Linked DNA regions of Homo sapiens. The protein of the gene in region 1 interacts with the protein of each later gene in a pairwise test. Each region holds a gene or a part of one and is shown on either strand. Other genes may lie near its edges.

Region 1 (3,652 bases):
CGATGGCACGATCTTGGCTCACCGCAACCTCTACCTCCCAGGTTCAACCGATTCTGCTGCCTCAGCCTCCTAGTAGCTGGGATTACAGGCATCTGCCACCATGCCCGGCTAATTTTGTATTTTTAGTAGAGGCAGGGTTTCTCCATGTTGGTCAGGCTGGTCTCGAACTCCTGACCTCAGATGATCCGCCCGCCTCGGCTTCCCAAAGTGCTGGGATTACAGGTATGAGCCACCACGCCTGGCCATGAACATAATTTCTTTACATTCATTTTAGCACTGAAGTGCCAGGTAACACCCACCCCCGCTGCCCTTCAGTGAAACAGGTGTTTTAGTCCTGTACCTTCGTAGCTGCTGTCAGTACTTCTTGCTAAGGAATTGCCTAGGGTTGTGAAACTGCCCTTAAGAGAATGGTTTTCAGCCTTGGCTGCATGTTGGACTCACCAGGCAAGTCTTTAAAAATACTGATTCCTGGGGTCCCAGGCCCAGAGGTTCTGATTTCACTGGTCTGTGGTGCAGCCTGGGCACCAGAATTTTTTTGAAAACTCCCTGGGTAATTCTGATATACAGGCCAGGTTAAAAGCTTAAGACCTGCTCAGTCAAAGGGAAGATGTCTTCTTCCTGCCTACACTGTTTCAGCTGGGACATCACCCTCCACAAATTCCTGAGTGGAAAGGGCTGTGGTTACTTTGGAAGCCTGTGGCCCTAGAGTTCTGGAACTAATGCCTCGGCAACATACTCCCCAAGACCTGTCTACATGTTTTTCTGTTGTGGGATATGTAGTATTTTGCATCCCACTTTGGTTTTACCCAATCCTTTAAGAAAGGGTCAGCTAAGTTTTGGCCAAGTGTTGTGGTCCATGCCTATAATCCCAGCAGTTTGGGAGGCCGAGGCCAGCAGGTCACCTGAGGACAGGAGTTTGAGACCAGCCTGGCCAACATGGTAAAACCCCGTCTCTACTAAAAATACAAAAATTAGCCGGGCATGGTGGTGCACGCCTGTGGTCCAAGCTACTCGAGAGGCTGAGGCAGGAGAATCGTTTGAACCTGGGAGGTGGAGGTTGCAGTGAGCAGATATCACGCCACTGTACCACTGCACTCCAGCCTGGGTGACCGAGCAAGACTCCATCTCAAAAAAAAAAAGAAAGGGTCACCTGAGTTTTTAACAATCTGATTCTTCAATGAATCCCTTTCCTTTTTACCACAGATTGGCCTGTAACTTTTGCTGGACTTTGGTGCTCTCCTTGATTTTATTTGCTCTTTGCCTTTGGGCCCCAACTTTTATTTCCCACCTTAACTCCTCTGCACGTTTTCTTGTGTGAAATCTCCCAATATGAGGAGAAAGTCAGTGATTTCTGGGTCTATCAAAAGCAGCCATTGTTCAAAGTGTTTTTGTCCTTCTTCACCTCCAGGATGAAGAATCCATCCAGAAGATAAATCCTTCCAAGCCTGGACTCCATCTACCTGGCTCTCCTTTAGTATGTTTCATCTTCCTGTACTTTCTCATAAATTTCAGAAATTTATTCTGCATGCCTCCTCAGGGCAAAGGCATCTCTACCTACAACTGTCACCTTGACACTCACCTAACAGTGCTTGAAGTGTCCTATACTGATCTTTCCCCTCTTAAATCTGTACACATTTTCTAGTTTTTATTTATTTTTATTTTTATTTTTATTTTTTAGACAGAGTTTCACTCTTGTTACCCAGGCTGGAGTGCGGTGGTATGATCTTGGCTCACTGCAACCTCTGCCTCTTGAGTTCAAGTGATTCTTGTGCCTCAGCCTCCCAAGTAGCTGGGATTACAAGTGCCTGCCATCACACCCTGGTAATTTTTTGTATTTTTAGTAGAGACGGGGTTTCACCATGTTGGCCAGGCTGGTCTCGAACTCCTGACCTCAGGTGATCTGCCTGCCTCAGCCTCCCAAAGTGTTGGGATTACAGGCGTGAGCCACCACACCTGGCCATTTATTTTTATTTTTTTAGAGACGGGGTCTTGATATGCTGCCCAGGCTGATCTCAAACTCCAGGGCTCAAGGGATCCTTCTGCTTCAGCCTCCCAAATCACTGGGATTACAGGCATGAGCTACCACGCTTGGCCCACATTTTCTGTTATGACTTGACAGAACCTATAAAAGCAATTGGAGAACTATTTAAAAGACAATTTCCCCAAGGGTTTATTGAATCTGAGCTCTTACAGTGGAGAGGGGGACAAGGGATGGGGGGAACATATGCCAATCTATTTTCTGAGCTCTTCACACTCTGCCTCTGTTATATTTCCTTGGAACCCAGTTACCATATCCGGTAGGGTCATAACCAACAAGGATCCCTCTTCTGCACCCTCCTTTTAAAAGCTTTAGAGACCTAAGTTCATGTTCTTTCCTGTTCCATTTCTGTCTTCCCTATACTTTAAGATCTTCCTCCAGTTAAATTAGCCTGTATTCCTTTATTTTTCTTTTATTCATTCATTGCTTCCATACTGATAGTAAGATTGAAGCATCTTCTACAAACCACTCCATTTCCTCCTAGATTTTGAGAAAACTCAATTCCTGGAAAGACAGCATACTAGGCGTAGCCCTTGGGCTTCCGAATTTGCAGTCAGTTCACTGAGTTGTTGTATACTAGGCATATGCCTTTGGCTTCTGCATTTGCAGTCAATTCACTGAGTTGTTGTATACTAGGCATACCCCCACCTCTGGCTTCTGACAGTATACTAGGCATACCCTTTTGGCTTCTGAATTTGCAGTCAATTCACTGGCCTCAATTCCAAAGTGGTGCCTTCTTTATGGAAGGGTCACCATCCATTATTTGTTCATTGGGGGAAAAAAACCCTACAGTTACTCCTCCGTGAATAAAGCCCAAAGCCAGATCTCTGAAAAGTCTGGAACTTTCAAAATGCAAGCCATGATCTGGGCTTTCATGACCTACTTGGGGACCTTAGTTGGCAGCAAAACTCCATGGGTTATACCACATGCATCCAAGTGGTATGTAAGAAGTATAACCCTTTTTCTAACAGTTTAGAAAGAACAATAATCTGGGGGGAGGGGGAAGGAGGGAGGAAAGGAACAAGGGGTGAAAAACTAACTGTTGGGTACTGTGTTCACTACCTGCTGGCGGGACCAACTGTACCCCAAACTTTAGCGTCACTCAATATACCCATGTAACAAGTCTGTACGTGTACCCCCAAATCTAAAAGTTGAAATTATATTTTTAAAAAAGAACGATAATCGTGAAGATAGCTAAATTTCCTCTCTTGACCATGAATGTAGTTTAAAACAACATAGAGAATAAGAGAATGAGGCAACTGTCTGCCTATGCCTAGCACAAAACTCCAAGCTCAGAGAATTCACCTGTGTTTGGAGTTTATTTTCTAGTCATCAGTGATTACTAAAAATAAATGACTTGTTCTTGATAGTCTAATCCCTTTCCTACCCACTCTCTTAAGCCAAAGCTGCTCTCAGTAGAGCCACCATAGGACCATGGTCTGCCTGGCTTATATCAGTTAAAAACCAGGTATCGTATTTAAAAACTTAACACCAGCCCGGCGCGGTGGCTCACGCCTGTAATCCTAGCACTTTGGGAGGCTGAAGTGGGCGGATTGCTTGAGCTCAGGAGTTCGAGACCAGCGTGGGCAACGTGGTGAAACGCCATCTCTACTG
Region 2 (3,652 bases), on another chromosome or scaffold:
GTGTAAGAATAGATACATAGATCAATGACATAAATAGATTATCCAGATCCACAGATATATGGTCAATTGATTTTGACAAAGGCACCAAGGCAATTCTATGGGTAGGTAAAGATTTCTTGCAACACACAAAAAGCACTGACCATAAAAGAAAAAAATGGATAAACTGGGCTCCATTACAATTACAAACTTGTTCTTTGAAAGACACCATTAAGAAAATGAAAAGGCAAGCCAAAGACTAGGAAGAAAATAGTCTCAATACATATATTTGAAAAAGAATTTGTATCTGAAATATATAAGCAATTCCTACAACTCAATAATAAAACCACTCAATTTTTTTTTTTTTTTTTTGAGACGGAGTCTTGCACTGTCGCCCAGGCTGGAGTGCAGTGGCGTGATCTCGGCTCACTGCAAGCTCCACTTCCTGGGTTCACGCCATTCTCCTGCCTCAGCCTCCCGAGTAGCTGGGACTACAGGCGCCTGCCACCATGCCCGGCTAATTTTTTTATTTTTAGTAGACACAGGGTTTCACCGTGTTAGCCAGGATGGTCTCCATCTCCTGACCTCTTGATCTGCTCGCCTCGGCCTCCCAAAGTTCTGGGATTACAGGCGTGAGCCACTGTGCCCGACCACCACTCAGTGTTTTTAAATGGGTAAAAATATTTGTACAGATACTTAACAAACGAAAATATGTGGGCCGGGCCAGGCGCGGTGGCTCACGCCTGTAATCCCAGCACTTTGGGAGGCCGAGGTGGGCAGATCACGAGGTCAAGAGATCGAGACCATCCTGGCTAACACGGTGAAACCCTGTCTCTACTAAAAATATAAAAATTAGCCATGCGTGGTGACAGGCACCTGTAGTCCCAGCTACTTGGGAGGCTGATGCAGGAGAATTGCTCCAACCCGGGAGGTGGAGGCTGCAGTGAGCCAAGATCATACCACTGCACTCCAGCCTGGGCGACAGAGCGAGACTCCATCTCAAAAAAAAAAAAAAACCAAAAAACCAAAGAAAATATGTGAATGGCCAATATGCACATGAAAAGAAGCTTTAGTCATCAGAAAAATGGAAATTAAAACGACAATGAAATACCAATACACACCCAGTAGAATGGCTAAAATTAAGAACACTGACAAAACAAAGTTCCGGCAAGAATACTGTGCAACTGGACTTCTTATAAATTGCTGGTAGGAGTGTAAGCTGGTACAACCGCTTTGGACAGTGATGTGGCAACCTCACATAAAGTTAAATATCTAATTAGCATACAACTAGTAATTCCACTTCTAGGCATCTGCACAAGAGAAGTGAAAGCACATGTTCACAAAGAGACTTGTACATGAATGCTTAAAGTAGCTTTATTCATAATAGTCCTCAAATGGAAACAATTCAGATGTTCATCAACAGGTGAACAGATAAGCAAATAGTAACTTATTCATGCAACCGAATACTACCAAGTAATAAAAAGGCACAAGCTATGAATGCATGCAACAACATGGATGAATCTCCAAAACACTGTGTTGGGAGAAAAAAGCCAGATACAGAAGATTATAAACTATATGATTTCACTTATATGAAGTAAAAGAATAGCCAAAAATAATCCATAGATCAGAACAGTGATTACGTCTAGTGGGATTGACTGGAAAAGGAGGCAGGAGGGAACTTTCTGGGGTGATGAAAATATTACCTATTTTGATTGGGGTGGTGGTTATTTGGGGACATACATTTATCAAAACTTATCAAACTGGACCCTTAAAATTAGTGAATTTTGTTCAAGACCAGCCTGGCTAACACGGTGAAACCTGTCTCTACTAAAAATACAAAATTAGCCAGGCATGGTGGTAGGTGTCTGTAATCCCAGCTACTTGGGAGGCTGAGGCAGGAGAATCACTTGAACCAGGGAGGCAGAGGTTGCAGTGAGCCGGGATCACGCCACTGCACTCTAGCCTGGGCAAGAGAGTGAGACTCCGTTCTCAAAAAAAGAAAAAAATTGGTGATTTTTACAGTATGAAAGTTATACCTAATAAAAAAATACTGGGAAAAAGCAATTGGAAGGATGTTACAACTTTGACAGCATTTGTTTCTGGGGAGAGGGAGAAGGATTGGGAACATTGTTTAGGGAAGAGACTTTTTTACTGAACTTACTTTATACTGTCAAGATTTTATACCAGACACATATATTTTTCTTTTTTTGAGGCAAGGTCTTCCTCTGTCACCCAGGCTGGAGTGTGGTGGTGTGATCACTGCTCACTGCAGCCTCCACCTCCAGGGTTCAAGCGATCCTCTTGCCTTAGCCTCCGGAGTGGCATTTGTCACTATACCCAGCTTTTTTTTTTTTTTTTTTAATTTTTTTGTAGAGACAAGGTTGCCCAGGCTGGTCTTGAACTCCTGGGTTCAAGAGATCCTCCTGCCTCGGCCTCCCAGAGTGCTGGGATTACAGGCGTGAGCCACTGCACCCAGCCTAAAAATAGATTTTAAAACAAAAAAGCTATTAAGAAAAATAAAAAAACAAGGCTGTGGATATGAGGATGAATGTAACAGAGAACAGTCAGTACACCAAAAGCCATAGGATATTCAAAGCAAAGGAGGCCTCATACTCACAAGACAGAAATAATGCACGCTGATATTGTCTTTCTGAAGAAATTCCCCTAATTTTTCGGGATCCCCAGGTTCTCGAAGGCATAGCCAGCAAACTGGAAGAGAGGACACCCAGAATTTGGCTCAAATTGACCATTAAGAATGGAAGAGAAGGGTGAGAATGTAACCATTCCTCTAAGTCAGGAAGGAGTAGAATACTAGGAAAAGGGTCATTTTGGCAAGGAGGAAGGTTGGGATGAGGTCTTATGTGGTATCAATTAGTCTGTCACATAATTCTGGTTACAATGAAAAAGTTGGCCACAACTGCTCACTTCATTTTTTTTTGGTTTTGTTTTGTTCTAAAGTGACTTTAATAACTTGTTTCTTGAACTTCAGACATGGTAATTTAAAATGGCAGTTCCTGAGTCCTCAAGATCTTAGAGAATCTAGGAAGGAAGTAGGGCTGGGAGAGAGAGAAGAAGCAAGTATACTGCCCCACACAGGTGGCCTTCTTTGCTGAGGGCTGGAGGCAGTGGGCGAACACAAGCTCCAGTCTTTCTTACCAGGCCCTGAAGACGGTTTCCTCTGGGTTACCCTCCTAGTCTTGGCAGATTTTCTATACAAGAGAAATAAGAAGCACAAGGTGTTCTTTGGGGATCTTGTTGATAACCTTTTTAACATTTCTCTTAAAATGCCATTCATGGGTCTGATGAAGGACCAACATATCTAAAGCCTAAGACATCAGCTTCTTTTCATATTTCACATATATATGTTTTTGAGACAGAGTCTTGCTCTGTTGCCCAGGCTGGAGGGCAGTGGTGCGATCTCAGCTTACTGCAACCTCTGCCTCCTGGGTTCAAGCAATTCTCCTGCCTCAGCCTCCCGAGGAGCTGGGATTACAGGCGCCTGTCACCACGCCCAGCTAATTTCTATATTTTTAGTAGAGACGGGGTTTCACCATGTTGGCCAGGCTGGTCTTGAACTCCTGACCTCAGGTGATCCACCCGCCTCGGCCTCCCAAAGTGCTGACATTACAGGCATGAGCCACTGCACCTGGCCATATTTCATATTTTTTTTAAGTGC
Region 3 (3,652 bases), on another chromosome or scaffold:
GCAGCTCTGAAACCAGTCTTAGGCTTTGCTGACTCTCAGCACCTTATTCTTTCTGCTAGCATTTTGGCAGACGTGACAAAGAACATCCCAAGTGTATAAGACACACTGCAGTTTCTAATACCATCTCCTTGCAACAGTGTGCTCATATCACCTGCGTGGTACAATGTCCTTCACTATAAGAGATAAGCAATTATATTTTAAAATCTTTTAAACAGGTATTTCTATTCAGCAGTAGGTTGCTTTATATCCCCAAAGACTCTCCAGTCAAACTTCCTTTTGTTATAGGATATAAAAACAGTTCACACGAATGATCATTACCTTTAACAAGCAATTTGTCTCTCACAGAAACCCTCCGAGTCGAGTCGGACGCTGTGGCTGCCGTCCGGGACCCTTTGAGACCATCGTCACGCTTCAGTTTACTTGCTAGCGTTAGCATTACTGCTGCCTTTACCCTGAAAGACAGCAATGAAAGCAGGGTTAAGGACCAGGTCTCCAGAGACTAATTAGACACTGAGAAAAATGTATAAGTGCTTTTGTATTTTGATTTTTTCCCACAATTTAGTTATGGAAAAAATTTGTACACATTAATAAGATTGGATTCCTTCATAATACATTTGAGAAGCTCTATGCCATCCTCTATAAGCCTAACTTTTAAAATTATGAATTAACATTTTTTAAAAAAGAGAGTCATGGCTGGGCACGGTGGCTCACAACTATAATCCCAGCACTTTGGGAGGCCAAGGTAGGAGGATTGCTTGAGCCTAAGAGCTCAAGACCAGCCTGGGCAACATGGCAAAACCCTGTCTCTACAAAAAATATAAAAAAATTAGCCAGGAGTGGTGGTGTGTGCCTGTAGTCTCAGCTACTCGGGAAGCTGAGGTAGGAGGATCCCTTGAGCCTGGGAGATTGGGGATACCGTGAGCCGTGATTGTGCCACTGCACTCCAGCCTGTGTGACACGGCAAGACCCTGTCTCAAAAAAAAAAAAAAAAAAAAAAAAAAATTTAAAATTAAAAAGAGTCATGCATTTCACACTCACTGGGTGCCAGGTCCTGGGATGTGGTTGTGACAAAGCTCCCGTGGAACACAAGGTCTAGGGTGGCCTCCACAGTTTCTCAACCAGCATGCCCTCACCAATGGGTTCCACATGAGTCCATTACTGCCCACTGGTAAGTTGGCCCTTCCCTGCTGCAGGGGATCATGCACACACATGGTACGGTCCCAGGTTCTGGCCCATCACCAACTGAAGCAGCACAGCCTCTGGTGGAAGAGGAGCACCACTCTTTGCTCTCCTTCCTCTTTTAATAAAGGTGTGGATAGAGCCTTAATAAGCATCTTCTCATTTATTCATGCTGTGTTGCATTTACTTACATTTGTGTTTTATTTATATTTTTTGGCAATTTCAACATCAAGACTAAATTAAAATTAATGTCCCAAAGTAGATTATGTTCATTGGTGGCTTCCACCCCATCTGTGTTGCAGGTTCCCCTGCTGCAAGCTCACTAGTAGGGACAACAAAGACCAAACACAGGTGATGCCCCTTGCTATCTGGGAGACGGTTGAAGAAATGCCACAATTTGTTTAAGATTTTATTTTTTAATGGCAGTTTTAAGTATACAGTAAAATTAACAGGAAGGTACAGAGATTTCCCATACGCCCCCTGCCCCAACACATGCACATCCTTCCCCTATTACCAACATCTCCCACCAGAGGGTACATTTGTTACAATTAATGAACCCACATTAACACATTATAACTCAAAGTCCACAGCTTACATTATGATCCCACTAATTGTAACAAAGTAACTATCCGCTAGACTCTGCCTTCTGTTTCTAACATAAACTGACATTAATCGTCCTCCTTGCCATGGTCAGAGAGGGTCACTGGAACTTCTTTTGACTGAGGACAAATATTTGTCACCAGGGCCAGGTGCCGTGGCTCATGCCTGTAATCCCAACACTTTAGGGGAACGAGACAGGTGGATTATGAGGCCAGGAGACCGAGACCACCCTGGCCAACATGGTGAAACCCCGTCTCTACTAAAATACAAAAAAATTAGCCGGGCGTGGTGGCCCACACCTGTAGTCCCAGCTACTTGGGAGGCTGAGGCAGGAGAATCACTTGAAGCCGGGAGGCAGAGGTTGCAGTGAGCTAAGATTGCACCACTGCACTCCAGCCTGGCAACAGAGTGAGACTCAAAAAAATAAAATAAAATAAAACAAAATAAATTGTCACCAGTTCAATATTTCCATAATTTCCTTTGTTGCTTTCGTATCATTTTATTTCAATACCACTCTGATCGTTTCAACAGAAAATGATCTAAAAATTCCATGTGAAAAGCTTGACCTAAGCACAGAAATTTTAGGTTGAGGCTAAGATCCTGAAAGTCAAATAAGAATACTCCGTTCCTCATTGGCATTTGAAACCATTTTTCACCCAGGTCTCTTACACAGTTTCTCACACCATCTTCTGCATATCCCCTAAATGCTGTCAGATTTTATTTTCTATTGTTTGTACCATGAAAACAGTACAGGCCAGGCATGGTGGCTCATGCCTATAATCCCAGCACTTCGGTAGGCCGAGGCAGGTGGGTCACCTGAGGTCAGGAGTTCTAGACCAGCCTGCCCAACATGGCAAAACCCCATCTCCACTAAAAATACCAAAAAAAATTAGCTCGGCATGGTGGCGGGTGCCTGTAAATCCCAGCTACTCAGGAGGCTGAGGCAGAAGAATAGGTTGAACCCGGGAGGTGGAGGTTGCAGTGATTGTGCCATTGCACTCCAGCCTGGGCAACAAGAGTGAAACCGCATCTCAAAAGATAAAAAAATTTAAAGAATTTTTTCAAAACGAAAACAATACATAGAATACGATCTTCTGAACTGCACAGTCTTTTCCACTAGAGGACACGGACATACACATACCCTAAACCCCTTAAGAAGCACTGGTCTAAAGGTTTCAAAGACAGCTCTGCACTTTCACGGTCATAAGCTCTCAGAATTGCAAAGTTGGAATGGACTTCTCTCACTCCCATTCCATTTTAACATGTGGACCCCAGGACAACAGAGGCCCAGAAGGTAGGCTGCCCAAAGCCACTCAGCTGCTAGAAGCTGTCACCACAGACACACTAGTTTCCCTCTTGTGGATGACAAAAATGTTTTTTGTTTGTTTTTTGAGACAGGTCTTGCTCTGTAGCCCAGGCTGGAGTGCAGTGGCGTGACTTGAGCTCAGTGCAGGCTCAAACTCCCAGGTTCAAGAGATCCTCCCACCTCAGCACCCTCCACCTCCTAAAGCAGCTAGGACTACAGGCAGGCACCATCATGTCCAGCTAATTTTAATTTTTTTTGTAGAGACAGGGTTTCACCATGTTACCCGGGCTGGTCTTGAATTCCTGAGCGGAAGCAATCCACCTGCCTCAGCCTCCCAAAGTGCTGGGACTACAGACGTGAGCCACCATGCCGGGCAGGAAATGTTTTTATCTCGAGTGTGGTCATGGTTTCAGACTGATCAATTACACAATTTAAATATGGGCAATTTAGTGTATTTCAATTACGCCTCAATAAAGTTGACAAAAATGTGAAAATAAACCAACATTAGTTTCTTCATTGTTACGCTACTGTGCCATCTCCTCAGGTGGCCCTCCATAAGAGCACATC

What was found.
Region 2: the proteins of RNF34 (region 1) and PHF7 interact in a two-hybrid assay, tested with the Homo sapiens proteins (one large-scale study listed by BioGRID and IntAct).
Region 3: the proteins of RNF34 (region 1) and UBE2F interact in a two-hybrid assay, tested with the Homo sapiens proteins (one large-scale study listed by BioGRID and IntAct).

The regions. Positions count from the first base shown.
Region 1 is NC_000012.12:121,406,466-121,410,117, reverse strand, and holds part of RNF34 (E3 ubiquitin-protein ligase RNF34), read right to left. Parts: intron 1,658-3,652; exon of another isoform or gene 1,643-1,657; coding exon of another isoform or gene 1,409-1,642; intron 1-1,408. Other genes in the region: KDM2B (lysine-specific demethylase 2B), read left to right, coding at 1,409-1,642. UniProt on the Homo sapiens protein: E3 ubiquitin-protein ligase that regulates several biological processes through the ubiquitin-mediated proteasomal degradation of various target proteins.
Region 2 is NC_000003.12:52,413,529-52,417,180, reverse strand, and holds part of PHF7 (E3 ubiquitin-protein ligase PHF7), read right to left. Parts: intron 3,186-3,652; coding exon 3,133-3,185; intron 2,686-3,132; coding exon 2,594-2,685; intron 1-2,593.
Region 3 is NC_000002.12:237,969,892-237,973,543, reverse strand, and holds part of UBE2F (NEDD8-conjugating enzyme UBE2F), read right to left. Parts: intron 453-3,652; 5' UTR 437-452; coding exon 319-436; intron 1-318. UniProt on the Homo sapiens protein: Accepts the ubiquitin-like protein NEDD8 from the UBA3-NAE1 E1 complex and catalyzes its covalent attachment to other proteins. Together with the E3 ubiquitin ligase RNF7/RBX2, specifically neddylates cullin-5 (CUL5).